2 separate regions of the Homo sapiens genome follow, and region 2 is linked to region 1. Evidence: fine-mapped expression QTL. A gene starts in region 1. The other region holds a variant in brackets. All regions are shown on one strand. Distances are between the middles of the regions. Region 1 holds the start of CD274 (CD274 molecule). Region 2 overlaps INCR1 (interferon stimulated noncoding RNA 1).

Evidence for each region. PIP is the estimated chance that this variant, and not a neighbour inherited with it, causes the effect.
Region 2: its variant is fine-mapped to the expression of CD274 in tibial nerve (GTEx, PIP 0.96).

Annotation. Positions count from the first base shown.
Region 1 is chr9:5,440,425-5,455,726 of GRCh38, forward strand. It overlaps CD274 (CD274 molecule), which reads left to right and starts at 10,118. Exons shown (of 7, transcript NM_014143.4): 1 at 10,118-10,172. RefSeq lists enhancers at 9,895-9,944, 10,235-10,394.
Region 2 is chr9:5,487,337-5,503,255 of GRCh38, forward strand. All of the region lies in intron 2 of INCR1 (interferon stimulated noncoding RNA 1), which reads right to left. Among named protein-coding and RNA genes, the nearest start is that of PDCD1LG2, 15 kb to the right of the region's middle. RefSeq lists enhancers at 6,125-6,214, 6,425-6,674, 6,705-6,764, 14,551-15,052 and a silencer at 11,773-12,067. The variant C/T (reference allele first, on the strand shown) is at 8,183.

The sequences.
Region 1 (15,302 bases):
TGAATACAGTAAGGATAAGTGGGGATTTATAGCCGAGGAGCAGGTTGTGTGGATGGGGGTGGGGTCCGTGGATGGAAAATTACTAAGAAGAGACAGCAAGGGTAGGGGAAATCCTTGCTAAACTGACCTAACAGGATTCTTGCTAAAGGTAGGCCAGGGTAAGCAGACATCACCTGGGGGCTGGTGGGGGTAAGGAATTTGATCAGATATTGAGAGTGGTCAAACATTCAGGGTGGGAAGATCCTCTCTAAACTGACTTAGCAGGATTCTTGCCAACACTGATTCTGCAAGGATGAACACTGCAGCCCAAGGTCAATATCTAATCAAGGAGATGGCTTAGAGGAGCCTGACTAAAGTTTGGTCGAGGAGAAATCTTGTCAGACTCTGTCATTCTCATATGTAAGGGATGAGCTGCTCTTCATCTGAGCAAAGGAAAAGAATAAATTCTGGGTGACAAAACAATTAGACTGTCTAGGTTTTCTGTTTGCCTTCCATCATATTCATTCTCCTCACTTCCCTGCCCTGTTCTATACCCCAAAGCTGACCTCTTTGGACGGCACCACCTGGGCTCTCCTCAGCTGGTTTCCATTTGAGTTTGGACAGCGGGAGGCATTCAGGGAGATGGGAGGCAGGAGGAAAAAGACATCAGGGTATATTTTCTCTGTTCTTTCTCTGTTTGGGGCTGAGTATCTGGTGGTGGTTGTGTTTCTCCACAATTGCAGCTCTTGGCAAGCAGTCCCTTCTCCATGGCTCCAGCTCCATGGGCTCTGGAAACACTTTTCTCCTTTGCTATGTAGCCTAGAGAGAGCGCAGTCTTCCTGCTGTTGCTAGACTCTGGATGACTCAACTGGATGGTTCTCTTAGTCATACTCCTTTAAGTAGTGTCTTCACTAATATCTCTTTAATCAAACCAACTGAGTAAAATTCTGATTCCTGATGGATACATGTTAAACCGAAAACACACATTATAAATTTTCTTGTATGTATGATGTTTTTCATAATTTTAAAACATAAGTGAAAAAAGTGACCATAGAAAAATATGCCCAGGAAATTGAAAAAAAAAGTCTTGGTATAGATATTGGACACATTTTATAAAATGTGGAGTAAGAGGGTTAAAGGAAATTTATTTCAGAATCAAATGGCATATAACTTTAACTGGTATGTGAATTATTTTCAGTTGTATGAATTTGTGAATATATATGTGTACATTTTTATGCATATATATAAATATGTGTTTTATATCATCTTGCATTATAACATAAGGATTTTTATGTTGCTACATTGCATTTATATTTACCATTTTTAACAGCTAAAGGATTTTCAATAAGTGTGTATGTAACAACTTCCATTGCTGGATATTTCTCAGTATATATATGTATATATACATATGTGTGTATACATATATATATACATATGTGTATATATACATATGTATGTATATGTATATGTACGTATGTATGTGTATATATACATACATGTGTGTATACGCATATATACATATGTGTATATATACACGTATATACATGTGTGTATATATACACGTATATACGTGTGTATATACACACGTATATACATGTGTGTATATACATGTGTGTATATACACACGTATATACGTGTGTATATACACACGTATATACATGTGTGTATATACACACGTATATACATGTGTGTATATATACGTGTGTATATATATAAACACATATATATATGCACATGCATATGTATACACTGAGTTAAGTAGTATAAATATTTTAGAGAAAATTGATGTAAAATCCTCAACTCATTTGATGCTCCCTATCCCAGGACAGTAAAAATTGCCCAATATTTCCTTGGACCTCCATAAAGAAGCAGTTTTTCAAAAAATAAAGTGTTTGGAAGTTTAAGATGTGCCTAGCAGTGTCTCCTTTTAACAGAGATGCTTTCACAAGGATTTGAATTTCCCCATTGAGCTGGGAACCAGGTTTAGCCAAGAACTTCGGTCTGTGAAGGACTGCAAATAGTTGCACAGTGTGGGGCTGAGGCTAGAACCTCCTTAATATTAAACCATTCTGGGATGGTGCTCCCCAAATTCTGGATTTTAACCTTCACTCCAATCCTGGGGCACCTCTGTAGCTTGGGCATGACCTGGACACAAGCTTTGTGTAAGCCTTCTTTGGACTTCATCCATTCCTCAACGGTGACACCATGTGGCAGTGTAATATAATGGCATCAGTGGACTCAGATCCTGTTCTCTCCCTACCTAGAGATTTTTAAGATTAAGATATGTAATTCACAACCATAAAATGTACCACCTTAAATTGTACAATTTATTGGTTTTTCATACATTCAAAAAGTTGTACAACCACCACCATTATCTAATTCCATAACATTTTCTTCACCCTAGAAAGAAACCTCATACCTATTAGCAGCCACTCCCCAAACTCCCCATTCTCCCCATTCCCCCAGTTTCTGGGGACCCCTAACCTACTTTTTGTTTTTATAGATTTGCCTATTCTGGACATTTTATATAAATGGAAGCCTACAATCTATGGCCTTTTGTGTCTGGCTCCTTTTACTTAGTATGATCAAGGTTCATCCAAGTTGTAGCATGTACCAGTACTTCATTTCTTTTTATGTCTGATTAATGTTCCAATGTATGGATATACCACATTTTGTTTATCCATTCAAAATTGTGGGGCATTTGGATTGTTCCCATTTTTTTTGCTGTCATAAATAATGCTGCTAAGTTTTTGTATGAACGTATGTTTTCAATTCTCTTGGGTATATATGTAAAAGCAGAATTGCTGGGTCATATGGTAACTCTGCATTTAACTTTTTGGAGTTGAACAAATACACCATGCCAGCAGTGAATAAGGATGCTGATTTCACTATACCTTTGCACAATAGTTAAGAGCATAAACACTGGAACCAGATGTCTGGGTTCGAATCCCAGCTGTGCTATCTCCTAGCTGTGTCGTTTAGACAAGTTACTAAAGCTCTGTGCCTCAGTGTCCACATCTCTAAAATAGAGGCAATAATAGTACCTTCCTTACAGGATTGTTGTAAGATTTAAATGAGCTAATATGTGTAAATCACAAAAATAGGGTCTGACATTTTTTAAATGGTATATGTTTTACCATTGCTGCTATTTTAATCTTTATTATAATTATTGTGTTTTGTTTTGTTAATTTGATAGCTTTAAAAGGTAATGATACAGTTTATTGATGTTTGTTATGAAAAGGAGTAATTGGAGAAGATAAAAATGTAAGGGGTAATAAAGTCAAGGAAGGTTTTTTGAGCTGAAAATGATTATATTTCAGAGTGTAACCTGAATAAAACTGAGGCTTCACATGGCTCAGTCCATGCATGTAATAGCATTCTAAGAAAACATAAACTGAATGAAAACGTAAACTGTGAAGCATGAAGAATAATGAGGGTCTTCACCTTATGCTTTCTGAAGGAGTCCCCGCAAATGCTTCACACAGCATATTGAACAAGAAACTCCTAAAATCTTCTCTAGATATTTCTCTCTTTCCTATTTTTTCCCACTGACAGTAGCACCTTATATCTATCCTCCTCAACTGCGAGGTCACTACAGCACTATACTAAGCCCCTGTTAACTTCCTTCTCTTGAAACCCATGCAACTCACATGATCCTATTCTCAGCCTGTGAATCTCAGCCTCCTGCAATCCTGTGAAATTCAACTTGGTCTCCTACTCTGAATGTGTATAAAAATAACAGAGAACAGTTCCTGAACTCTGATGAGTAAAATGATCTACCTTATTACATGTGGTATTATAATAAATAAATATACATTAATTTCTTTCCCCATTTTCCAGCACACAGCTCCTAAAAGACTTGTAACTTCCTGAGTGATAGGTATGCTAGGTAAATTTTTTGTTCTATGTGACCTTCGACTCCAGTTCTTGACACAGAGCTCCTGATCCCTTGGAATTTCCATAGTGATAGGAGCATCTTTCATTCTCCTGAAGTAACTTGGTGGGCTTCTGGATGGGAGCTGGTCACAAGAATGACCAAGCCATGATTAGAAGCTTGGAACTTTCACCTCCTACCTCATCCTGTGAAAAGGGGAGAGGGGCTGAAGATTGAGGTAACAATTGCTGATGTGTACATGATGAAGTCCCCATAAAAATCCCTAAATGAGGGGATTTGGAGAGGTTCTGGAGGTGCTGAACGTGGAGGTGCTTGGAGGGTGGCCTATCCAGTTCATCTCCAGAGTTCACACACTCACCTAAGTGCTGATGCCCACCTGATGGCATTTCTCAGCCTCCGAGGCTTTCCTTCTTTGTACTTAGTCAAAAGAATGCTCTAATCCAGTCTATCATTGATGGGCATTTGGGTTGGTTCCAAGTCTTTGCTATTGTGAATAGTGCCGCAACAAACATACGTGTGCATGTGTCTTTATAGTAGCATGATTTATAATCCTTTGGGTATATACCCAGTAATGAGATCGCTGGGTCAAATGGTATTTCTAGTTCTAGATCCTTGAGGAATTACCACACTGTCTTCCACAATGCTTGAACTAGTTTACAGTCCCACCAACAGTGTAAAAGTGTTCCTATTTCTCCACATCCTCTCCAGCACCTGTTGTTTCCTGACTTTTTAATGATCGCCATTCTAACTGGTGTGAGATGGTATCTCATTGTGGTTTTGATTTGCATTTGTCTGATGGCCAGTGATGATGAGCATTTTTTCATGTGTCTGTTGGCTACATAAATGTCCTCTTTTGAGAAATGTCTGTTCATATCCTTCGCCCACTTTGTGATGGGATTGTTTTTCTCTTGTAAATTTGTTTGAGTTCTTTGTAGATTCTGGATATTAGCCCTTTGTCAGATGAGTAGATAGATTAAGGAAATATGGCACATATACACCATGGAATACTATGCAGCCATAAAAAAGGATGAGTTCATGTTCTTTGTAAGGACATGGATGAAGCTGGAAACCATCATTCTCAGCAAACTATTGCAAAAACAAAAAACCAAACACCGCGTGTTCTCACTCATAGGTGGGAATTGAATAATGAGAACACTTGGACACATGGTGGGGAACATCACACACTGGAACCTGTCGTGGGGTTGGGGGAGGGGGGAGGGAAAGCATTAGGAGATATACCTAATGTAAATGACGAGTTAATGGGTGCAGCACACCAACATGGCACATGTATACATATGTAACAAACCTGTACGTTGTGCACATGCACCCTAGAACTTAAAGTATAATAAAAAAAAAGAATTCTCTAATCCATGGAATAAGTGTTGAATAATGAAATTCTGATATTGTGTTTAATGATATACTGCACTATTCAGAATATTTGTACTTACCTTCGAGTCTCTCTTCTAAAAGATGCCAAACCCCCTTACACGAAGTAGAAAACGTCAAATATCTAAATATTGTATCTTAATAATGTTCAAACATTAAATGTTTCAAATATTCCAATGTTTAGAATCATAAAAAAAAAACATAAGAATTGTTTTAAAAAAATGCTCTAAACTTAACCCACAGCCCTTCTTGTGAATTTCTCCAAAATAACTGGAGCCTGGTTAATAGCAAGCCTCAGGAGCATGGCTTTGAAATACTGTCAACATACTGCCACCAATTTCTCCATTTCCAGAAAAGACTGTAATTTTTTCTTTAGAAATCATGATTTTCTTGATTGGTTTAGACTGGTTTCCAGTAGTTCACTTACCAGGAAAGTTTCTGTTTTGTTTTTAGACTTCCTTAATTTAGAGAATGCACATAATATTGAAACTGGCTATAGTATCCTACTCTGGAAAAGCATATTAAATACATACAAATATATATTTAATGTATATAAATACAAATATATATGTAATGTATATAAATATATACAAATATATGTGTGTGTGAGTATGTATCTTCCTTGATTTCCTTTTATCCATTACCACTAATATCCCTCAATAAGTCCTACTGGTTCTACTTCCAAATTATATTTTGAACATGCTCTACAGAAACAGCTCCTAAAGATTTTCCAGCCTCCATGAATGTAAGTCCCCTCCATATTCCATTCTTCGTACCACAGCTAGAGTGGTATTTTTAGAACATTCATCAGGCAACTACCCTGCTCTAAGCCATCTGGTGGCTTTTCATTGCAAGTAGAATGCAACCTCTCCCCTAGTCCTCAAGGCTCTTCATGATATGATTTGACCCTCCCATCCCTCTTCCTCACTCTCTACCCACAATTCTCTTCTTTTCATCCTTGGAACTTGCCAAGCTTGTTCCACCCGTATAGTCTTTGTACCTGTCTCTTCCCATGGCCAAATATGCTCTTTTGGCAGATCTTTCCATGGTTATCTTCATGATTCATTTCTCAGATATCACCTCTTACACATTTCCTGACCACCATAACTAAAGGAACCTCACACCTGTGCACTATACCATATTGCTCTGACTTGTCTTCTTTTTTCTTGTATAGGACTTTTCGGTATCTGAAATTTTTATTTATTAATTTCTGTTTGGAACATATCTCTCTCAGAGCAGAAAGGTCTTGCTGTCCTTTCAAGGAAATGGTGGGGAAAAGAAAAATTCTCATTCTTTTATGATGAGCCTACAAAAATAAATGGGTTAAATGGGTTCTTGATCCAGTTCACCTTAAGTGTGGTTACCAAAGGAAATGATTCACAAGGTGACTATTTCATTTGTGTGACACTCACTTATGTTATTAGTTCTAGGATATTAAATCAAGAAATATTTTCTAGGATCCCCTGAAAGAGTATCTCTCAATTGTAAACTTTATCTTTAGTGGCATTTTGTTGATTTATTGAGATTCCCTAGATTTAAAATATTTACCACAGAGTGTTCCCCAACTCCCACAGCATTTATCCAGGCCATAACTACTTATGTCTGGATTTATGAACTTATTGTGGGTGGGGGAAATTGTTGGAGGTCTCATCTTTGTTTTAAAGTACCTGTGGCATGGGGTCTGCCCTTTGAAGGCAAGAGCTCTTCACCTGCCCAGCTCTTCCCCAGCTTAGGACAGGAAGGAGAGAGACACAGTGTGAGCGAGAGAAGCATCTGATTGTGAGTGTCAGATGAGGACAGCTGCTACTCTCTGGTCACCCATACATGTTAATTACCCCTGTCATTTAAACCATTGTTTTGTGTAACTAGAACAAAGTATTCTTTCCACGAAGTCTGTTTGACACGAGACACATATAGGATGTGAGTCTATGACAAGGGTAGGGGCAACAAATGTGAGGGGTTGGATGGAAACAGAGGAAGAGAAATGAGCATTGCATAGGGCAGTGGTTTAAAACCCTACATGATCAAAAATAGAACCTGGAGACAAATCTTGATATTGTCTTTATACATAATAAAATGCATTTTAAAATATTCGATGCAAACAAAGCAGTTTGTCATGTCTTTTGTTTTGAGTCTCTTTAGTATATGCTGCTTTTGAAGATCAAGAACATTTACTGGAAATTGCTCCTTCACCAGGAATTTGCTCACATCTCTTCAGGTCCACTTATAAGATCTTGAAATCAGTCCTCCTGAGATCAGTACAAACGAGGATCATCTCTCCTGCTTTAGAAGCAAAAGTGGCAAGCAGGGTAGACAGAGGCAGAAGGAAGGATGGTACTGATAAATCAGCCAAATTAGATGGAAGAAAGCGAATTACAGCTGTACTTGCAAAGAACTCTTGGCTCATTTTTTCCCTTAAATATTAAATCACTAGTTTTCAAAACTTCAAATGTGAACATGACTCACCTGAGGACAATGTTAAAATGTTGACCTCCAAGACCCTGCCCCCAAGTTTGGATCCCAGGCAGAACCCTGGAATCTGTATTTTAAACATTAACCCCAAGTCGAGTGTAATGCAAGTAACCATCAGAGACACTCTGAGAAACAGCACATTGGCAATGATGAATTTATATGTCTAAAAATGAATAGAGTAGATGTTACATGAATAGGAAGTGGTGGTATTCAAGATGACCATAGTATCTAGCTCTTCAGCCCTGGCTCCCCACTGCTCTTCTCCCATCTCAGCACTTCTCCATCTATTTCGTCCAAATAAAAAAATTCACACAGAGTTTCAGGACTTAACCCCCCACTCATTAACCATCTGTTTTGCTTTACATATTTTTCTGAGGTAATAAAATTTCTCTTTTTCTAAACACAGCCTGTTTTTCAATCTCCGGGTAGTTGATCAATTGTATGGGAAAATGAATGGCTGAAGGGTAGAAACAGGTGGGAAAGATGAACAAAAACACGAATCCTCACATTACTAATACGCAAATCACTGAGCAGCAAGCTGAGCAAATACCCTCAATTCCCATCAGCAACTTTAGAGAAAGGCAAATTCCGTTTGCCTCATTGATCATTTAGGTAGACCCTGAACACTGCTTTCATAAAACAAAAACAAAATACCCATCCCCAGTTTAAAAAATTATTCATAGATCATCCAGGCCATCTAGGAGGATATGATTTAATCCTGGCTACTTGGTAAATTATTTGCCCAAGTTAACTCAGCTAGTTAGTGGTAGATGGCTCTGAAGCCAGTTGTTTTTTTTTGTTTTGTTTTTTGCAGACCTCAAGAGTCATGATGAACTAGCAGATCATAAAGTTTATGCCCTGGGTCTTGACCATTTTTAGAAAAATAAAACATTAAATGAAAATATCAGAGGGCATTGCAGATAGTAGATCTAAGTATTTTTTCATGAAACTTGTTGTACATGTGTGTGTCATACACAGACTATATATATGCAGTACCTGTAAACTGTATTGCCACATAATGTCTATATTTTCCTAGAGGTCACAGTCACCAAAGTTGGGAAGTCACCCAACTTCGGGAACTTTGGGAAGTCACCCAAACTTACAGTCACCAAAATTGCTCTATTCTACTATGTGACCTCAAAAGTGATTTGAAAGAAGGAACATCTGAGCTGGGCCCAAACCCTATTGCAATTTTATTGGGGCCAAAGAGAACTCCATGCTCCTGCCAAATCAAGGCAGTGTCAGCCTCAATAATTTCCCAGATAAAAATAAAAATCTGTGATACAATCAGAATGTGAAAATTCTTATTTTGGAAGCAAATGTCATAACCAATGCAAGGGCTATCTCAATATTCATTCATTATGCAGTATTTTGAACTGCAGTTGAAATGAATAAGAAGGAAAGGCAAACAACGAAGAGTCCAATTTCTCAATTTAGAAAAAGAGAAAAAAAAGAAAAGGGAGCACACAGGCACGGTGGCTCAAGCCTGTAATATCAGCACTTTGGCGGATCACTTGAGGTCAAGGAGTTCGAGAAAAGAGAGCACCTAGAAGTTCAGCGCGGGATAATACTTAAGTAAATTATGACACCATCGTCTGTCATCTTGGGCCCATTCACTAACCCAAAGCTTTCAAAAGGGCTTTCTTAACCCTCACCTAGAATAGGCTTCCGCAGCCTTAATCCTTAGGGTGGCAGAATATCAGGGACCCTGAGCATTCTTAAAAGATGTAGCTCGGGATGGGAAGTTCTTTTAATGACAAAGCAAATGAAGTTTCATTATGTCGAGGAACTTTGAGGAAGTCACAGAATCCACGATTTAAAAATATATTTCCTATTATACACCCATACACACACACACACACCTACTTTCTAGAATAAAAACCAAAGCCATATGGGTCTGCTGCTGACTTTTTATATGTTGTAGAGTTATATCAAGTTATGTCAAGATGTTCAGTCACCTTGAAGAGGCTTTTATCAGAAAGGGGGACGCCTTTCTGATAAAGGTTAAGGGGTAACCTTAAGCTCTTACCCCTCTGAAGGTAAAATCAAGGTGCGTTCAGATGTTGGCTTGTTGTAAATTTCTTTTTTTATTAATAACATACTAAATGTGGATTTGCTTTAATCTTCGAAACTCTTCCCGGTGAAAATCTCATTTACAAGAAAACTGGACTGACATGTTTCACTTTCTGTTTCATTTCTATACACAGCTTTATTCCTAGGACACCAACACTAGATACCTAAACTGAAAGCTTCCGCCGATTTCACCGAAGGTCAGGAAAGTCCAACGCCCGGCAAACTGGATTTGCTGCCTTGGGCAGAGGTGGGCGGGACCCCGCCTCCGGGCCTGGCGCAACGCTGAGCAGCTGGCGCGTCCCGCGCGGCCCCAGTTCTGCGCAGCTTCCCGAGGCTCCGCACCAGCCGCGCTTCTGTCCGCCTGCAGGTAGGGAGCGTTGTTCCTCCGCGGGTGCCCACGGCCCAGTATCTCTGGCTAGCTCGCTGGGCACTTTAGGACGGAGGGTCTCTACACCCTTTCTTTGGGATGGAGAGAGGAGAAGGGAAAGGGAACGCGATGGTCTAGGGGGCAGTAGAGCCAATTACCTGTTGGGGTTAATAAGAACAGGCAATGCATCTGGCCTTCCTCCAGGCGCGATTCAGTTTTGCTCTAAAAATAATTTATACCTCTAAAAATAAATAAGATAGGTAGTATAGGATAGGTAGTCATTCTTATGCGACTGTGTGTTCAGAATATAGCTCTGATGCTAGGCTGGAGGTCTGGACACGGGTCCAAGTCCACCGCCAGCTGCTTGCTAGTAACATGACTTGTGTAAGTTATCCCAGCTGCAGCATCTAAGTAAGTCTCTTCCTGCGCTAAGCAGGTCCAGGATCCCTGAACGGAATTTATTTGCTCTGTCCATTCTGAGAACCCAAAGGAGTCCTAAAAGAGGAATGGAGGAGCCTAAGAATAAAAATAGTATAATAAAACATTTCTTAGACACATTGACCTTGGCCTATGTCAAAGTTCAGTCTGGGTTTGTCTTATAACACAAGGAGTAAAAGTACCATTGTTCTACCTCTTTTTTTAATACTTGAAAAAAATTTACTGTGGATGCTTTTCTATGAATTAAATAACCTTCTAAAAAATGTTTTCATTGCTGCATTCGATTAGATTGGGTAACTAAATGAAATTAATTCCTCACTGTTGGGTATAAAGGTTATTTACAGTGGTTCTGTCTTAGCCATTCACTGAACTCATTGCATATATATCTCTGGAATATTGCTGATTGTTTCCTTCAAGTAAACTTAGAAGTGTAACTACTTAGTCAAAGAGCCTGAATATTTTAAAGGCCTTTTGAAGAAAACTGAAAATGCTTTCCAGAAAGGATGTATCAGTTGACAATGACAGTCGTCAACAGTATTTAAGGAGAACTATGATACTCTGAAGAAAAACTTAGCCTTTCTCAGTAAAAGTAGGTAGGCAGAGGCCACATGACAGCAGTTAGAGTGTGGTCTTCAAGGAAGTCACAGAAATACTGTGGGGAATTGAAACCCCATGTGGAAAATGTACAAGAGTGTCTCAGTGTGACTGAGAAGGAGGTTGGGCATGGGGTTTCATGGAGTTTAATAAAGTTTGGTCACTTAGTAGAGGTTTAATAAATCAACTGTCTTAATCTTTGATCCTACTTAAGAATTTTTTTTTTGTTTTTGTAGAGATGGGGCTCTTGTTATGTTGCCCAGGCTGTTCTCGAACTCCTAGCCTCAGGCGATCCTCCCTCCTCAGGCTCCAGAAGTCCTGGGATTACTGGCGGGAGCCACCATGCAGGCCTCTTGCTCCTACTTTTGAGAAAGGAAGTTTAACCGGTTTTTTTTGTCTTTTTTTTTTTTTTTTTGAGACAGAGTCTCACTCTGTTGCCCATGCTGGAGTGCAGTGGTGCAATCTCAGCTCACTGCCTCCCGGGTTCAAGTGATTCTCCTGCCTCAGCCTCCCGAGTAGCTGGGACTACAGGCACCTGCCACCACGCCCAGCTAATTTTTGTATTTTTAGTAGAAATGGGGTTTCACCATATTGGCCAGGCTGATCTCGAACTCCTGACCTCAGGTGATCCGCCTGCCTCGGCCTCCCAAAGTGCTGGGATTACAGGCATGAGCCACTGCTCCTGGCTGCTTAACTTTTTCTCTATCTCATCCTCCTACCCATCCTACCCTTGGAAGATAGAGAAGTAGTATTAGTTCCATAGTGTTATACTGGGCTTCCCCCAGGGACAAACCCACTTCCCCAACCTGAATGAGCCATCACTTCTTCCCCAGTTTACATTTCATTGCTCTTTAAATGTCTCCATTCGGATATGGGAATTCACATATGGTCATAATTCTTACCTGAAGAAGATGTCAGTCTTCTTCTCTTAGACCAACTGCCCTGATATGAGGTTTAGAGGTTAAAGAACATGTGTGTATTTACATGATCTTTGTATTCTGCCTTTTCGTCCCTCACTAATGACAGCTGCACCCCAAGGAAATGGAGCTGTGGAAGAGAGGGTTTGATAAGAAATTAAGTAAATATTGGATCTAATCCATCACCCTCCAGGAAGCCTTTATTACTCCTAAAAATTTCAACCAAATTCATTAAAGGACAAGAACTCCACCAGAGTAGGCCATAAACATTGGCAAAATTAGTTGTAATCCATGACTAGATTTAATGTCCCTTTGTTTTATTCCCATATGGTTATAATGCTTTGCTTGGCATTAGGGGTATTTTAAGTTTTCTTCTGCCTAGTAAGTGAATTTGTGTTTATAATACAATAATCATAAAATATCACATTAATATTTTATAACTGTACAGTTATAAAATATTTTATAAGTAATATTTATATTTTATAAGTAATATTTTATAACTGTACAGTTAACTCTGGCCCAAGGAAAAGATAGTCTGATAGATGCTGCAGCCCCATTTTAGCAAATGTGACCTCACAGGCCTGAATGCCATCGCTATTCCACATCTACAGGATAGACGGAAAGGAAAGAAATAAAAAAATAGGTACCTAACACTGGCAAGAGGATGATGACTCATGTTATTTCACTTAACCTTTTTATCTTTTAACATGAAGGACTCATACAGGTTGATAAGAAACCAGTGACATAAACAGACCAAAAAATGATCAGATCTTTCAAATTAGCAAAAAAATAATATTTTTTAAACAATGGGTGAAAATACAGTGTAACAGTACCAATTATCAACATGTGTTGAGAACCAGAAAAATGTTCTTTTTCTTTGATCAGCAACACTATTTGGGAAAATCTATCCTCAGGGCCTAGCCTGGGGCCCTGGCACACAGTAGGCACTCAACGAATATTTGCTGAACACACAAATACTTATGATATTTTAAAAAATTGGCAACAATCTGATACCTAACAATAGAGGGATTAAATATTATGGAACTGTTAAATAAGATGCTTATGAATACCATGCAGTAAGATGGGCAATATTTATGCCATAAGCTTTAATGAAACAAATGGGTATTAAATGTATGATAAGGTTATAAATTACTTTTTAAAAGATTACAGGGAAAAAAATTGAAAGATATACACTGAAATGTTTTTTGCTCACAGTGGTGACAAGGTTTCTCAGCACTGGCACTGTTGACGTTTTAGGCTGTATGTCTTTGCTGTGGGAGGCTGGCCTGTGCACTGCAGGGTGTTTGGCAGCACTCTTGGCCTCTGCCCCTAGATAGCAATAGCAGTCCTCCCTCAACCAGCCCAATTTTGACAACCAAAAATGTTTCCAGGCATCACCAGATGCTCCCTGGGTGAGAGTGATGAAATAGTAGGGGATTTTCCCCTTCTTTTCTTATTTTCTGTAATTCCATTATATTACTTTAATAATAAAGAAAAAAACATAAAAAATAAACGAATGTTATTATTCTACGTCAGTTTGGATGTTTGGACTCCATTTTGGGGTTCTTTCCATTATATCACTTGGTCTGCTAAACATTCTACGGTTTGGTAAGGTGAAGTGATTCATGAAATTTTGGTTTTATTTTTTTCCTGATACTAAAAATAAAACATTCTTTCACTTGGAAATTTGGACACAGAACACCAAAAAAAATCCATAATCTCATCTCTCTTTTTCTGTCTTTTCCTTCCTTTTTTCCCTTTAAAAACAATAAAGAGTGAAACCTACCTGTTCTCCCTCTAATTTAATTCCTAAATATAATCACTGTCAATATCTTGGACATTTCCTGTGTCTAAACACACACACACACTTTTTTTTTTCAGCAAAAGTGGATTTCTGCTACATGTAGTGTTCTGCAACTTACTTTCTATGTGTTTACAAAATCAGTACATGTACATATGCTGAATTCAGTCCTTAATGGTATTATATTTTGTGAATATACCAAAATTTGTTTAACCACTTAGACAATCTAGGATATTCTCAGTTTGCTGTTATGAGCAATGCTCTTCCTTTACATATACAGACATATATATATATATGTGTGTGTGTGTGTTTTTGTTTTAGTAGGATAGATTTCTAGGAGAGGGTGAAAGGTCTTATGACATCCGCATTTACGATTGTAATAGGAAGTATCAAAGTGCCCCCTAAAGAAAAAAATCCTCCCATTAGTGGGTAAGAAAGCCTATTTGTTCATATCTTCACAAACACTAAATATTAGAAATATTTACAATTGTGGTCAAGCTCATAAGTGAAAATGGTATTTCATATCTTATATTTTTTATTGTGAGATTGAACATCTTTCATATGTTTACATGTCACCTGTATTTCTTATTCTCTGAACTATATGTTATGACCTTTCACTTTTTTTCCTCATGGGTTATGTGTAGTTTGTATAGTTGTCTTATTGATTGTTAGGAGCTATTTATATATTAGGAACATTAATCTCCTGTCTTATATATACGTGGCATCGATTAGTTGATCATTTGTGAGTTCATGTCTGTATACAAAGATTGGAGAGGCACTAAGAGGGAAAACTTACCTCTTTCTTATCAAAGTTTGTAAATATATGTATAACAGAAGAGGGAGAAAATATTAATAAATGCACAGATTGGCTGAAATAGAGTATAAATCTTTTACTCCCCTACTTCAACATAAACTGCAAAAGGAGAGTGACTTTTCTTTCACTCTGACTTCCGTATTCCTCATGCTTAAAATAGTGCCTAGCACAGAAGAGGTGCTCAATCAGTGTTTGCTAAACGAAATAATTAGTCACATTTCAAGCAGGATGACTAAATGAAGAATAGAATCTAGGCAGATACTCTGGAAGAGTGGCTGTGAGTCATTCATATCTTAGTATGAATTAGTCAAATCCAACTCTCTCCCCTTCCCACTCCCCACTGTTAGTAGAAGAATCTGTTTATTGAGAGAATAGATTTATAATTTAGAATAAGTGAGAGGGGCAGAAGAGGAGATTTTGAAGGATGGCACCTGAAGGAGGACTAGCATGGCTGAGACAGTGAAGTGGAAGCCTTGAATAGCTAAAGGGTAAGATGAAAGTATTTAGCTGTAGGGGGAAAAAGCATTGACAGGTTGGAAAAGTAAAAGTCAGATTCTCCTTGCTCT
Region 2 (15,919 bases), 47 kb after region 1:
GTGGTTGCAAGTTTTTGTTTGTTTGTTTTTGTTTTTGTTTTGAGACAGAGTCTCGCTCTGTCACCAGGCTGGAGTGTAGTGGTGCAATCTCGGCTCACTGCAACATCTGCCCCTCGAGTTCAAGCGATTCTCCTGCCTCAGCCTCCCAAGTGGCTGGCACTCCAGGTGCACTCCACCACGCCCAGCTAATTTTTGTATTTTTAGTAGAGATGGGGTTTCACCATGCTGGCCAGGATGGTTTCGATCTCTTGACCTTGTGATCCACCCGCCTCGGCCTCCCAAAGTGCTGGGATTACAGGCGTGAGCCACCGTGCCCGGTCAGTTGCAAGTTTTAAGTAGGGGGAAATGATTGATCCAGCTTGTGTTATGAGATCATTTGGGCTGCAGTGTGGAGGAAGAACTAAAAGGACATGGAAGCAGGAGGACAGCCAGGTGATGGGTGTCGTAAGCCTGGGAAATGTGATGGTAATACAAGCATGTCAAGCCCGCAGATCCTGACAGTAAGCATGCCTTCCTGACTTGTGCCCGGGGAGAGGAGGCGACAGTGATTCTGACCTCTTCTTATTTCCCTCCCTTTCTAGCGCCACTTTCCTGAGCTTTTTTACTGTATGTTATGTATACCGTATGCTGTATGCTGTATGCTGTATGCTGTATCTAACAGCCCTTGTAAACAGCCTTAAATCCTTTCTAAACATCCTGGATAGTCCTAGAATCCTAGAATATGGATTCTTTCTTGGTTTCAAAACTGATTTCATTATATTGCATGGAAAGAAGAAATGTCTTTATTGTAGAGTGTTGGTATTTCTGGGTAGGTTGATTCAAAGATTAAGTTGTGAGGGCAGTTGGGACTTTTAGAGAAAGTGGATCTAGAAAATCTAAATTGTTACTAAGAAATATTGATGAATGTAGGTCATGGAGCTCAGAAAGAAGTATCTCTTTGATATTTTTCCTAAACTATGTGAAAGGGAAGCAATGGGAAATTTCGTGAACGGAGTCAGGAAAGCCTCAAGTTGGGTGGCTAGGAAGGGTAGAGGAGTTGCTATTAGGGAACCGAGGAGTGAATGTGGAGATGGTGAAGTGAGACAGGAGGCTGCTTCCTCAAAAGTCAGGACAGTTATGAGAATGCTCTGGTTTGAATGTCAAGATGTTACTGGAAATGAATAACTACAAATACACGCATGTTCATGCACACACACATACACAAACACATGAAGCTATTGAAAAGAATATGCAGCAAATGTGTTTTGTAAGTGAGCTAGTATCTAGTTGAAGTACCATGATCATCTTTAAAATCTCTTGCTAGAAGAGGAATGTTGACTGCCCAGTGTGGGTGTGGATAGGGAATGAATATCCTCGCTGTGGTATCCATAATTGAAATGCACTGTGCCTCATCTCCAGACCAGCCCTTACAGCAGTGCCAATCTCCTTCTTGTCCACTGCACAATAGCTCGCTGACTCTGCCTACTCTTTGGTCAGTTTCCCGGATATCCTTGTCTCTTCATTCTTAGTACATCACATCATTACTCAGGCCTCTTGCCTGGGCCCCTGGCAGCTTTAGGTACCTCATTCAGCGCAACTGTTTTCCTGTTTTCTTGAGCAGTGAGGTCATAATTTCATGACCTTGGATACACATTGCGTGAAGTAAAATGTTTATTAAGTCAGATGAATTAATAACATTTTCAGGAAGTTCATAATTGATGGAGACAAATTACATATGTACCATACATCAACACACACACACACAGAATGTGCACACTCAGGAGAGATTAATAGTGTGTATGTTTATTAGATATAAAGCAGCTGTAGCCTATGAAGAAAGGACAGAAGAAACAGCGAGGTACAGGAACTAGAGTCGACAAAGAAGAAAAGCAAAGATGCCCACATACATCCTACTTTTAATGCAAAGCTTGTCTCTGCTGGATAACATCACAAATCCCCCAACTAAAATCACCAATTGTTCTGTCCCTAAAGATATCTTTCTAGTTCTCAATCCCAGGCCAGGTGGGGCTCTATTTAACTCTCTTTTATTTAATCCACTTTTGATCACTCTTAGGAAGTTTCACTTTACTCAACAAGCTCAAGATTGATCACCCTTGACTTTATCTGTTTATCTTAGGAGTGTTTGGTTGAAGACAGAACCACAGATGCCCATTATTACTAGTATTATCATAACAATAAAGAGGAGCAATAGTAAATAAAGGAAACCCAGAGCCAGATTATCGGGACTTAAATCTGTTTTCCCACTTTTGTGATGTTTGACCTTCAGCAAATTATCTACCTTCTCTATGCCTCCGTTTCCCTATTCATAAAATGGAAACAATGAAAGTACCTACCTCGTAGGGTTTTTGTGAGAGTTAAATGGGTTCATACACATAAAGTACTTGGATCTGCCCTGGCAATATTTAGACCTCTGTGAATAGTAACCTGTATTACTGCGTTTCAGTTAGGAATGACTAAATGTTGCGGCAAACTGCACATTCTGTTGACCCTTCCTGGTCACTGCTCACCCATCCGAAGCCTGTGTAATACAATATTCAACTCTGAAACTGCATCTAAGGTGGCCAGGAAGGAAAGCTGGAGGGAAATGTGTAGACCAGCTGACCTCTATTTTAGGTTGAAGGTCCAGGCATTTCCTCCCCTTTCTCTACCTGTGAGAGGAGCCAACCAGAGCTGGCCAAGCCATGATGCAGCCCCTCGTGTGGCCATTTCCTTCCCAGCCTCTATTCATCTTTTACCACTCTCTAGCAGCAGAAGCTGGTGGGTTGTGGTTACCACTCTTGTTTGTTGCCCCACATCCCAGCTTCATTTTCTCAGGATCACTGCCAGGCAATAAGGAAAGTTTGGGGCCTGAAAAAATCTGCCCCAGGCCTGTGTAGAGCAAAATACCCTTGGACATTATACCCGCAGAAGGTTCCTCAAAATTATGTGACATTTTTCAGCTGATCGAACTTCCCTAACCTGACTTCCTGGAAAAGCCAAGAATTCAGAGAAAATGTAGGGCACTGACGAACCAATGAAGAGGTCAGTAAATTCTCCCGGAGTCCCCACTCAGGTCTGAAAAATGTTGTGTGAAACCTGTGGGTAGGGATAGCCTCCAAATATTTGCCCTCCCACAACTGTCCATAGGCCTAGTTGCCCTGCCATAGCTAGGTCCCAAATTGTTGCAAAAGCCATAAAGCCATATCCATGTAGATTCTGCCAAACCAGCTAACTGGCCAATCTGTTTTCCCACAACATGAGTTACCTTACTGGGATGTGCGTCTTCAGGTATATGCACTTGGATCCAGTTACAGCAAGTTACCCCAAGGAAATAATCAGACAAGGGCATAGAGCTGATTGTGAAGGGTCATTCATGGTGCCCATGGTTTTGTAATATCAACACTTACAAATTAGAAGCAACCTAAATTGCCATCACTAGGGGATGGCTTAAACAAACTATGGCATACCCATACAATAAAATATTTATCAGTCTTTATAAATAATCATGGGGTCTGTAATTACCAACATGGAAAAATGCCCATGATACCCTTGAAAAGTGATAAAACAGTTCACGGAATTACATTCTGATATAATGGTACTTATTAAAATTGCATTCTCCAGCCTGGGCGACAGAGCGAGACTCCGTCTCAAAAAAAAAAAAAAAAATTGCATTCATCAATGAGAACACTTGGACACAGGAAGGGGGACATCACACACTGGGGCCTGTCGTGGGGTGGGGGGAGGGGGGAGGGGTAGCATTAGGAGATATACCTAATGTAAATGACGAGTTAATGGGTGCAGCACACCTACATGGCACATGTATACATACGTAACAAACCTGCACGTTGTGCACATGCACCCTGGAACTTAAAGTATAATAATAATAATTAATTAATTAATTAAATTGCATTCATATGAATGGTACCTATTAAAATTGCATTGATATGCAATTTTAATAAGTACCATTATATCAGAATGTGTCCAGGGATCTACAGAAAATTATGTTCACAAAAATACTGACAGCAATTATCTCTGTGGTTGAGTATTTGGGTAATATTTACTGTTATTTTTTACTTTTTTTTGGTATTTAGAAAACACTTAGCAATGATACAATGTGCTATCTGAAAAAAACTAAACTTTTTAAAATATAAGTTTGAGGGGAAAATGAACTAAGTTAGTAATGTTTTGGGAATAAGATCATGGGTTGGCCACACCAAGCAGGTAATGGCACAAGGATAAGATAATTAACATTTATTAAGCACTTATTACATGCCAGCAGGCCCTGTTCTAAGCACTTTCCGTGTATCAACTCATTTCATTTGCACAACTCCACAAAGCAAGTCTTTTATGGTGCCCATTTTACAGATAATGAAATGAAACAGGCACCAAGAGAGGAAGCCGTTTGTTTGAAGTCTTACGGCTGGCAGGAGGTGAAACAGAGATTTAGACAGAGGTCTGCTTCCAAAATCTCTGAGCGTGACCCCTGTGCTCCCCTGCATAGGGCTGGCTTTCCTGCAGGGGAGGAGGGAAGGTGCTGAGGTCAGAGGAGGAGAGAGGAATGATGGAGGGAGTGGAGAGGGCAGAGGTGGCTGCTGACGATGGGGAACAAGACACTGTCCTCTTCCCCCTGCAGTTCCTGAAGGATCTTCATTCTCCCACTGGCCACCTGTTTACCTAACCCCTCTAAAGCCTCAGTTTCCTCTTTTGTAAAGTGAGGGAGCCTTCTCAGGCCATTCACCTTAATTAGTTCCTCTCTATGCCATATAAAGTCCTAGAAGCCAGTTCTGCTGTGGCACATATGCAGCCACCACCATCATCACCAGCATCCCACTTCCGGCTGAGAGACGCAGGCCCCGGTGTCTCCCAGTGTGCAAGTTGTCAGAGCAGGCTGGAAGAGAATTGGGCATTCTCTGTCTCTGCTGTAGAATGACCACCCTGAAGGATAATTCTGCTCACTTGTTATTCTCCTCACTGGACAGGAGACCCTGGAAGCAGAGACAATATCTGATGCACCTCTGCATTCCCACTACCTGGAACATAAAGTCGTTCAATAAATAAACATCCTCTGTTGAATGAATAACTGGAAAGTACAGCCATGTGGCCTTATGATTCCAGAGTAACAAGTAGGAAAAGCAACACTTGCATATTAATTTCTTTATTTTTTGTTTCTGTTTTCTACCTTATCTGGCACAGAGTTCAGAGTAGGTACAGTCATTAAAGAAGTCACTGATTTTTAACATGCCACTTAAGCAAAAGGAGCAAGAAGGCCCTATTTATGTTGATCAACTAATTCAAGAAATTCTGGGCTTTTGTTTTTTCTTTTCTTTTTTCTTTTTCTTTTTCTTTTTTTTTTTTTTTTTTTTTGAGACAGGGTTTCACTCCTGTTGCCCAGGCTGGAGTGCAATGGTGCGATCTTGGCTCACTGCAGCCTACCAGGCTCAAGAAATTCTCCTGCCTCAGCCTGCCGAGTAGCTGGGGCTACAGGCACATGCCACTGCACCCAGCTAATTTTTGTATTTTTTGTAGAGATAGGGTTTCACCATGCTGCCCAGGCTGGTCTTGAATTCCTGAGCTCAAATGATCTACCCACCTTGGCCATCCAAAGTGCTGGGATTACAGGTGTGAGCCACCACACCCAGCCAAATTCTAGGCTTTCTATGTAAATTATAAAATGTAATTTACAAAACTCTGTTCAGACATTTTATCACCAAGGCAGAGAGTGGTCAAATCACAGAGCTAGTAAGGAGTAGAACCAAATCCAGCTTCTCTGCCCTTGGTGTCAACTGCTTTTTCTACTTTCCACATAGCTCCACCCCTCCAGCCAGTCACAATGGTTTCTAAAAGTGGACCTGCCTTTGCAGTTATTCATTCAACAGAGGATGTTTATTTATTGAGCAACTTTATGTTTCAGGTAGTGGGAATGCAGAGGTGCACCAGATATTGTCTCTGCTTCCAGGGTCTCCTGTCCAGTGAGGAGAACAACAAGTGAGCAGAATTATCCCTCAAGGTGGTCTTTCTAAGCAGAGACCTGCCTTAATTCTGTTGCCTTAGGTGAGATCAACTTACTTCTGCATGCTTCCATTTCTCCTCCCCCTTGGTAGATTGAGAATCATGGTATCAGCTCTTCTTAGTGAAAGAAAATCTAAGAAACATAGACAGGTGTCCACATCTTGAAGTAGCTGAAGTTTGTCTTTGGGTTCTCAGCTTCCTTTTCTCCCTCTTGCTTACTTCCCTTCAAGGATTGCTGCCATCAGTGTCATCAAACCCAGGGATTCCCTAATGCTAATCCACCAATTAGAGCACGGCTGGTTACTACAGAACCACTGATGAGTTTCAAAAAATGCAGACTTCTGGACCCCACCCTTGGAGATTTTGAATCAGGAGGTCTTAGGTAGTGCCCAGGCACCTCTATGTTTCAGGTTCCCCAGGGGATTCTAACCTGCAGCCATATTGGGGAACCACTGACCTAACACGAAAACATGAGTCAGCTGTCTCAACTGTATTGAAAGTGATGAATCATCATTTCACTTTAAAAAGAAAAAAATATGAGCTGAAACCAAAGTCATTGTGAGAACCTTTCATTTCCTTTACCTGAGTTTGAATTCAGGTTTCCTTTACTTGAGTTTGAGTTTAGAAGTCTTCTATACTTGGTCCAAGCATTTTTACGGAGATTCCCAAGGTCTTAAGGCAAACAGACTTAAGACCTGTCCTCAGTTTAGTCCTGGGAACATGCTGTAACCCTGATCAGCCCTGGCTAGGGGGACCCTGGGAAACTGGCTGGCTCTGGAGATCCTTCAGGCCAGAGTTGCTGGGAACCACACCGGGTTCATCTTACACCATGCCTAGGTGCTGGGGTCCAATAGTCTTGTCTCCTCTGGCTTCCCAGAGCCAGAACTAGGAAGACGAGAAGGCTTTGGGATATGGCTGGCTTCCAGAGACTGAATCAGCAACTCATATTCTCAAGACCGAGGTGGGTAGGCCTGACACAGAAGGGTCAGGAGGCTGCTAGAATCTATGACAGGGCAGGAACAGCGCTGAGGCAGCAGAAACTGAGAAAGCAGAAGTCACCAGAAAGAGAAAAGAAGTTCAAAGTAGAGGGAAAGACTGAGGAAATAAGCAGGGTGAGTCGAACAGATGAGATGTGCAGAGAGAAGCAGATATGAGCTGAGGGAGAGAGACTCAATGAACCACGAGAGGTGGGCAAAGAAAGCAGCCAGTCCTGAGGTTACCTTGTTTCTGACAGTTTGGGTCCTGCCCATCCTTTCTTTTTTTTTTTTTTTTTTAAGTGATTGATTGTTGGTTGTTTTTTTTTATTATTATTATACTTTAAGCTCTAGGGTACATGTGCACAACGTGCAGGTTTGTTACATATGTATACATGTGCCATATTGGTGTGCTGCACCCATTAACTCATCATTAAACATTAGGTATATCTCCTCATGCTATCCCTCCCCCCTGTCCCCACCCCACAACAGGCCCCAGTGTGTGATGTTCCCCTTCATGTGTCCATGTGTTCTCATTGTTCAGTTCCCACCTATGAGCGAGAACATGCAGTGTTTGGTTTTTTGTCCTTGCAATAGTTTGCTGAGAATTATGGTTTCCAGCTTCATCCATGTCCCTACAAAGGACATGCACTCATCCTTTTTTATGGCTGCATAGTAGTCCATGGTGTATATGTGCCACATTTTCTTAATCTAGTCTATCATTGTTGGACATTTGGGTTGGTTCCAAGTCTTTGCTATTGTAAATAGTGCCATGATAAACGTACGTGTGCATGTGTCTTTATAGTAGCAAGATTTATAATCCTTTGGGTATATACCCAGTAATGGGATGGCTGGGTCAAATGGTATTTCTAGTTCTAGATCCTTAAGGAATAACCACACTGCCTTCCACAATGCTTGAACTAGTTTACAGTCCCAACAAAAGTGTAAAAGTGTTCCTATTTCTCCACATCCTCTCCAGCACCTGTTGTTTCCTGACTTTTTAATGATCGCCATTCTAACTGGTGTGAGATGATATCTCATTATGGTTTTGATTTGAATTTCTCTGATGGCCAGTGATGATGAGCATTTTTTCATGTGTCTTTTGGCTGCATAAATGTCTTCTTTTAAGAAGTGTCTGTTCATATCCTTCACCCACTTTTTGATGGGGTTGTTTTTTTCTTGTAAATTTGTTTGAGTTCATTGTAGATTCTGGATATTAG[C/T]CATTTGTCAGATGGGTAGATTGCAAAAATGTTCTCCCATTCTGTAGCTTGCCTGTTCACTCTGATGGTAGTTTCTTTTGCTGTGCAGAAGCTCTTTAGTTTTATTAGATCCCATTTGTCAATTTTGGCTTCTGTTGCCATTGCGTTTGGTGTTTTAGACATGAAGTCCTTGCCCATGCCTATGTCCTGAATGGTATTGCCTAGGTTTTCTTCTAGGGTTTTTATGGTTTTAGGTCTAACATTTAAGTCTTTCATCCATCTTGAATTAATTTTTGTAAAAGGTGTAAGGAAGGGATCCAGTTTCAGCCTTCTACATATGGCTAGCCAGTTTTCCCAGCACCATTTATTAAATAGGGAATCCTTTCCCCATTTCTTGTTCTTGTCAGGTTTGTCAAAGATCAGATAGTTGTAGATAGGCTGCATTATTTCTGAGGGCTGCCCATCCTTATATCACCAATTCAATTGAGGAGACTCGACCAAATGTTTTATTTTTCTAATAACTGTTGCCAGTAGTATTCTGGGAAATCCTTCTAGCCTGTTGGGCAGTGAGTGACCCTCATCATATATCAGTGCAATTTCATGATTTGTAGATCACTTATTATGACTCAGTCTAGTCCCATGTTTTCTAATAGCTTTTGAGATCTAATTCATATACCATGCAATTCACTCATTTAGAGCAGGGGTTCCCAAACCCTGGACTGTGAACCAGTACCCATCCATGGCCTGTTAGGAACTGGGCTGCACAGCAGGAGGTGAGCACCCAGCAAATGAGCATTACCACCTGAGCTCTACCTCCTGTCAGATCAGTGGCAGCATTAGATTCTCATAGCAGTGCAAATCCTGTTGTAAACTGAGCATGCAATGGATCTACGTTGCTTTTCTTATGAGAATCTAACTAATGCCTGATGATGTGAGGTGGAACAGTTTCATCCCAAAACCATTTCCACCACCCTTCCCACAATGCACGGAAAAATTGTCTACGACGAAACTGGTCCCTGGTGCCAAAAAGGTTGGGGATTGCTGATTTAGAGCATACCTTTCAGTGGTTTTTAGTATATGCACAGAGTTCTGCAACCAACAATATAATTAATTTTGAAATATTTTCATCATCCCAAAATGAAATCCCATCCCTCTAGCAGTCACCCCCTAGTTCCCCTCATTCCTCCCAGTCTTAAGTAATTATTTCCTGTCTCTATGGATTTGCCTATTCTGGACATTTCGTCTAAATGGAATCATACAATATATACAATCTTTTGTGACAGGCTTCTTTCACATAGCATAATGTTTTCAAGGTTCACACACACTGTATCACGTATCAGGACTGCATTCATTTCTAAAGCTGAGATATATTCCATTGTATGGACATACTGTTTTTTATTGTCTCATTCATCAGTCTCTGGACATCTGGTTTGTTTCCAATTTTTTGATACTAAGAATAATGCTTCTATGAACATTCATGCAGACATTTTTGTGTGTACATTTCATTTCTTTTGAAATATACCTAGGAGTAGAACACTGGGTCGCTATGTTTAACATTTTGAGGAAGTGACAGAGTTCATCTCATTTAAAATTCCAATCCCATATTTTACAAATATGAGATATTTTACAAATATCTCTCCTCCCAGAATAGGTGAAACTTATGACCCTGCAATCTTCAAGTTGGGCAGAGAAATGGCTCAGGTCTCAGGCGGTTGCAGTCTAAGGGTAGTGGCCTGTGATAATGGCTGGGGCCTCCCATGCCTTTGGCTTCCTTCTCTTCTGCATCACACGAAGCCATAGTAACTGTTGGGGTTTTTGGTCATCCTTGAGGACTCAGGAGCCTGGGATGTGAATGATATCCCCATTTTCTTCATTCCTGAAAATAAGTCTACAGCCCTTTTCACTCCCCGGGTGTGGGACACCCAGTGAACCTCCCATTTTCAGAAACTTCAGGCAAGAAGCAGGTATTAATCTCTATACAAGGCACTCTCAAACTTTGGAGATATGCGTTTAGCACCCCTTTTCTCTCCCCAAGAATGAGAGGAGACTCAGATAATATACATCCACTCTAGGCTCTCGGAACCTTCTCCCTGTCTCTTAGTCTCCTTCTTACTTGTCTTTGTTCAAGGCCAGTGGGCCAGTTTAATTTCTCTCCTCCTCCTCTCTTCTCTCCTCTCATTTCCTGCCCCCAACCCTGCACTTGAAAGACTCATTGAAGGAATTAGGCCTGACTTTATTTTTTTTACCATATTAACAAAACGATATTTCTTTTTGAAAAATTTATTTTTATTATTTTTAAAGACAGAGTCTTGCTCTGTCACCCTGGCTGGAGTGCAGTGGTGGAATCATAGTTCACTGCAACCTCAAACTCCTGGACTAAAATGATCCTCCCTCCTCAGCCTTTCAAGTAGCTGGGACTATAGGTGTGTGCCACCACTCCTGGCTTTTTAATTATTTTTTTAATTGACACATAAATAATTATATAGATTTATGGAGTAGAGTGTGCTATTTCGACACATGTCTAAGATGTATTATAATTAAATCATAGTAATTAGCATATCCATCATCTGAAACTTTTATTTCTTTGTGTTGGAAACACTCAAAATCCTCTCTTCTAGCTATTTGAAAATATAGAATACATTGTTGTTAACTGTAGTCACCCTACAGTGCTATAGAGGCCTTACTTAAATTTGACCTTTGTGAGTTCAGTAACTTTTCCTCAACAAGAAGCCATCTACCCAGTTATTTCTTCACTATTCAGTAACATGGGGCAGAAAAAAATACTTAATCAGTGCCCCACATCAATCTGTTACACTTATAATAAATCTCTTTTTATTTTGAAAAGTTCTTTTCTGTGAATGAGCCAAACCTAGACCTCTCTCCTTCTAAGAACAAACAAGTATTTCAGTTGCTCCGGCCAGAACTTCAATTCACACCTTTCCTTCTCTTACTTTGAGACCAGGCCTTTCTTAGCACATAGAGACCAGGTGGGACTGCAAGCCAAGTGTGGACTTTGAGGATGATGACCAGTGACTCACCTCCAGCCCCTGGCTGACCATGACACAAGGGAGGCCAATTTTCGGGCTGGCCCCCATGTGGTCTCCCTCCTCCTCCTCTCTTCCCCCAGCTGCTCATGACCTGCCTGCCCCACCCCAGAAATTCCTTGTCCCCATTTTCTTTTTCATTTGAGACAGAGTCTTGCTCTGTTGCCCAGGCTGGAGTGCAGTGGCACGATCTCAGCTCACTGCAACCTCCGCCTCCTGGGTTCAAGCAATTCTCCTGCCTCAGCCTCCCAAGTAGCTGGGATTACAGGTACCTGCCACCATGCCTGGCTAAGTTTTGTATTTTTTAGTAGGGATGGGGTTTCATCATGTTGGCCAGGCTGATCTCGAACTCCTGACCTCAGGTGATCTGCCTGCCTCGGCCTCCCAAATTGCTGGGATTTCAGGCGTGAGCCACCGTGCCCGGCCCCCTCTCCCCATTTTCAAGAGATTAAGCTGGTCTTCACCTGCTTCCTTCACATTCCAGATAAACTCACAGCAGATCCCTGCTTCCTGACTTTGGAAACGTTGCTAAAGCAGGTTCTAGATAAACTGCTGCCTCCTCATTTCTCACACCTTCCTTAGCTCTTGCTCTTTGCCTGTTTTCCCAAAATTCAAGTGCATTTCTTTCTCATCCTCAAGCTGTATTTTTTTCCCTTATAAAACCAAGCAGAGTGGGAAATACTGGACTTATTTTTTTGGACCTGAAAGCATTAACATTGATTTAGCACCTGCTGTATGACAAGCACTGTTCTAGGTGATTTACATGAATATTTACATCATGTCATATTACAATATATTACATTACATCGCATCACATCACATACATTGTATTGCATCATATTATATTACATTGAACTACATTTGCATTACACTGCATTTGGAGGAAAATATCTTGGGAGGAAAGGACAGAAATGGTTGTAGCATTTCTTACCTACTCTGCCCTACATTCACAGGGTGATCTTGGTTAAGCTCTGTAATCTCTCTTTGTATTAACTTTCCCTTCTATAAGATAGGAGGGGCCTCATAGATTGGCTGGTGACATAATTATTAAACTCATTATATTCTTATTATAGTCTAATAGTTTATGACCAAAATTCTAATTTTCTATTTCCAAGTGACAATGCAATGTTGAAGGGGGTGCCTAATTCTACACACAGACACACACACACAATTTAGCTATGCCTCTCAGGAATCTTCTATTAAAAAGAGAACAAAGCTAAATTAAATAAATTGCCAGCCAGGCATGGTGGCTGACACCCGTAATCCCAACAATTTGGGAGGCTGAGGTGGATGGATCACTTGAGCTCAGGAGTACAAGACTGTTAGGTTTTGAAGGGAAGGCGAGACTTAAAGAAAGACACACACACATAAGAGGGAAGTTCAACAACAAATGCAGACTTTATATCCAGCATAAAACCTACAGAAGTCAGAGACCAGTCTAATGCCAGTACCTGCTGCTGCTTATAGGCTGGGGCAATTTATAGGTATGGGCAGGAGGGGTCTGGGCAGTATGGCTTGCTGCCTGGCAGGAAATTGATAAGATGGTCCCATGATGAGGCAGTTCTGGTCCTTGTTCAGGCAGGATGTCATCATGGTGTTCCTTGGACCTTTGCCCAGAAGGTCTTTGCCTTCTAGTTTAGCATAAAAAGGAAGAGGGGCATTGTTAATTATCTGGCTGTTTCCTGCTAAATAGGAGCACTGCACTCAGGCTTTGGGTTTTCAGCAGTGGGTGTCCGACTTTAGAGTTGTTTTCCTGGAAGTGCTGATACCAAACTTGGCAGAGAAGAATGGTATCGTGTTTCTATATAGCTGCCTGGACAAGGGAGTTCGGCCTTTGGGAGATAAAGCGGGATATGAAGGTGCGCACACATGGGCCAATTGTCAGTATTATGAGGGAGAAAATTAGGGACCCTAAGACAGGGGTTACCCAAGGTATCCACTTTAGGAAGGATGACCCCTGCCAACAGTGAATGACTTGATGTTGGATTTCTGCAGCCGTGTAATGGAGCCTGTGGGCTGCGTTGCGAACAATGCCGGCTTCATTAACATAAAAACAGCATTCTTCTTGGACATATACACATGTGCCCCAAGACAAGAATGTTAATCCAAACTGCACCATTTTGTAAGCGCCCTGCTATTTTGCAGACCTTGGTAAAAGTGACACATTTCATGGGTTTTTGGGCCATGAGAAACACCCTGCCTAACCACTTGACCACAAGGCCCACAAAGGCCCAACTAAAGAAATATCTCTATCATATCCTTCTGGGCAAAGGTCCAAGGAACACCACGATGACATCCCGCCTGAACAAGGACCAGAACTGCCTCATGACGGGAACATCTTATCAATATCCTACCGGGCAGCAAGCCATACTGCCCAGACCCCTCCCGCCCATACCTATAAATTACCCCAGCCTGTAAGCAGCGGTAGGCACTGGCGTTAGGCTGGTCCCCGACTTCTACAGTGTGCATATTTCTTTAACCCTCGCCTTCCCTTCAAAACCTAACAGGGATCAGCCTGGGCAATATGGCAAAATGCCATCTCTGCAAAAAAATACGAAAATTAGCTGGGTGTGGTGGCGCATGGCTGTGGTTCCAGCTACTTGAGAGGCTGAAGTGGTAGGATCGCTTGAGCCCCGCAGGTTGAAGTTGCAGGCAGCCCTGATTATGCCACTGCACTCCAGCCTGAGTGACAGAGTCAGACCCTGTCTCAAATAAATAAATAAATAAAAATAAATTAGAAACACATACAGCCCTTTGTTGATTTCTTTAAATGTTTTCTTCTTGTTATTTTTCAGTAATCTAACTATACTCTCCATTATTGCTTTTAAAAAATTATTTCTGTCTTTACAAAAGTAATTTGTGCTCATGGCAGACTATTTAAAAAACAAAATGAAGCCAAAGAAAGAAAATAAAAATTAACTGCAGGAGAAGGAGGCAAGAGAGCTAACTAGATGCAGCCAGGAGAAACACCTCTCACAGAGATCTTCCCAGATTTTCAGAGGGAAGGCATCAAGAGTGGACAGAGGGAAGACACAGAGGCTGGGCTGAAGCAGGAGGAAGCTGAAAACCCTGCATGAGGCTACCACACACTGGGACTTGTTCCTGGCCCCCAACAACTCCTGCAGAAGGGATGAGTTGAACAGGCAAGGAGAAACATGCTCTTGCAATGGGTCTCTGGAATCACGACAGGAAGAGACCCCTCAACCACTGTGGACACTTGAGTTGGCAAGGAGAGCTGCTTAGAGAAGTGGTAGGGGCAGAGCTCCAGGTGATGTGGAGCCCAGTAGGTTTCGTGCGGGAGTGTTTGTGGTGGAGTACAGCCAGCGATGTCCATCTCCCTAGGCTCAACTTGCTTCCATAGGAGACTTTAGCACCAGGGGAGCTGTCGGTCCTAAATTCTGCAGGGCGGTGTTGCCCATGAGATAGGGCCAGTCTGACTTCAGCACCCTTTGGTCTGCTAGCCTTTCCCAGGGCCCCAGCCTGTCCATGCCTGCTTGCAGTGCAGCCACCAGGTACCTCCTGGGAGCCCACATCATAGCACCTGTGCTGGCAGACCATGCCAGACTGTCAGAGTGCTGCAGCAGAGTAGCCCCCATGGACACACACCAGCCCACCCAGCTCATCCCCTAACTACAGCCTCCCCCTTGTTGCTTTGCTTGCACACACTTGCCCACAGCCACCCTTCATATCACTTTGCCAGTACCTGCGTGTACAGGCAGACCTCACCTTCCCTTCCCCACCAGCATACGTGTGAGCGTGTGCCCTGCCATGCCACTGCTGCTGGTGTGAGTATATCCTGCCCCTCCTTTCCCTGCAGCACTGTCCACTGTGATGGCAATGGCATTGTCATCAGAGTGTTGTTGGGCATGGAGCTGCCAGCTCCGCCCCAGCCAGTCCCCAGCCCTGCCCCTATGCGAACACTGCCTATGGCACAAAACTAGGCACAAAAACCAGCAGGCCCACCCCTGCCCTGAGCGGCCAATGCCTCCCATGTGAATGTGCACAGGGGGCACACACAGCCCTGCATCTAGCAGCATCCTGCTCCCATGCTAATCCCAACACTGGCACAAACATGTGTACAGTTGCTGGTGAGGGCCCCCCAACCTGCCTGAGCCATGCTGCCACTGCTGCTTCTATGAACACCTGCACGAAGGCTGGCACTCCGGCATCCACTAGCACCTTGCTGCAGCCAACAAGTGTGCACCCCACTGCACCGCTGCTGCCACTGCGACTGGCACATGCGACTGAGGATGGATCATGTTTCCACAGCCCTACAAAGCACTTTGGCTGGCACCATGCCTCAGAGAGTTGTGATCAGAGGTCCAGGAGCACCTCAGGCCCCTCCAACATAGCAGGTTCCTAACCTTAAGGAGCCAGAGAACAAGACCGGGGCCTGATACCAGTGCCCCAGAGTTATAACACACAGTTTGGGAGTCCTGAGCTGAGACTTGGGCCCCTAAAATCTTCCAGAAATGAAGCCAGTCTACTGAACCCACCTTATACCACAATCAAACCCCGAAGGTCATTAAATATGATATAAAAAGGGGGAAAAAAAAACAAAAACAGCAACATCAAAGATTGAAGGAACATCATTCTACAAAGATGAGAAAGAACCAAGATAAGAACTCTAACAACTAAAAAGCCAGATGGTCTTCTTTCCTCCAAACAATCACACTAGTTCTCCAATAATGGTTCTTAACCAGGCTGAGATAGC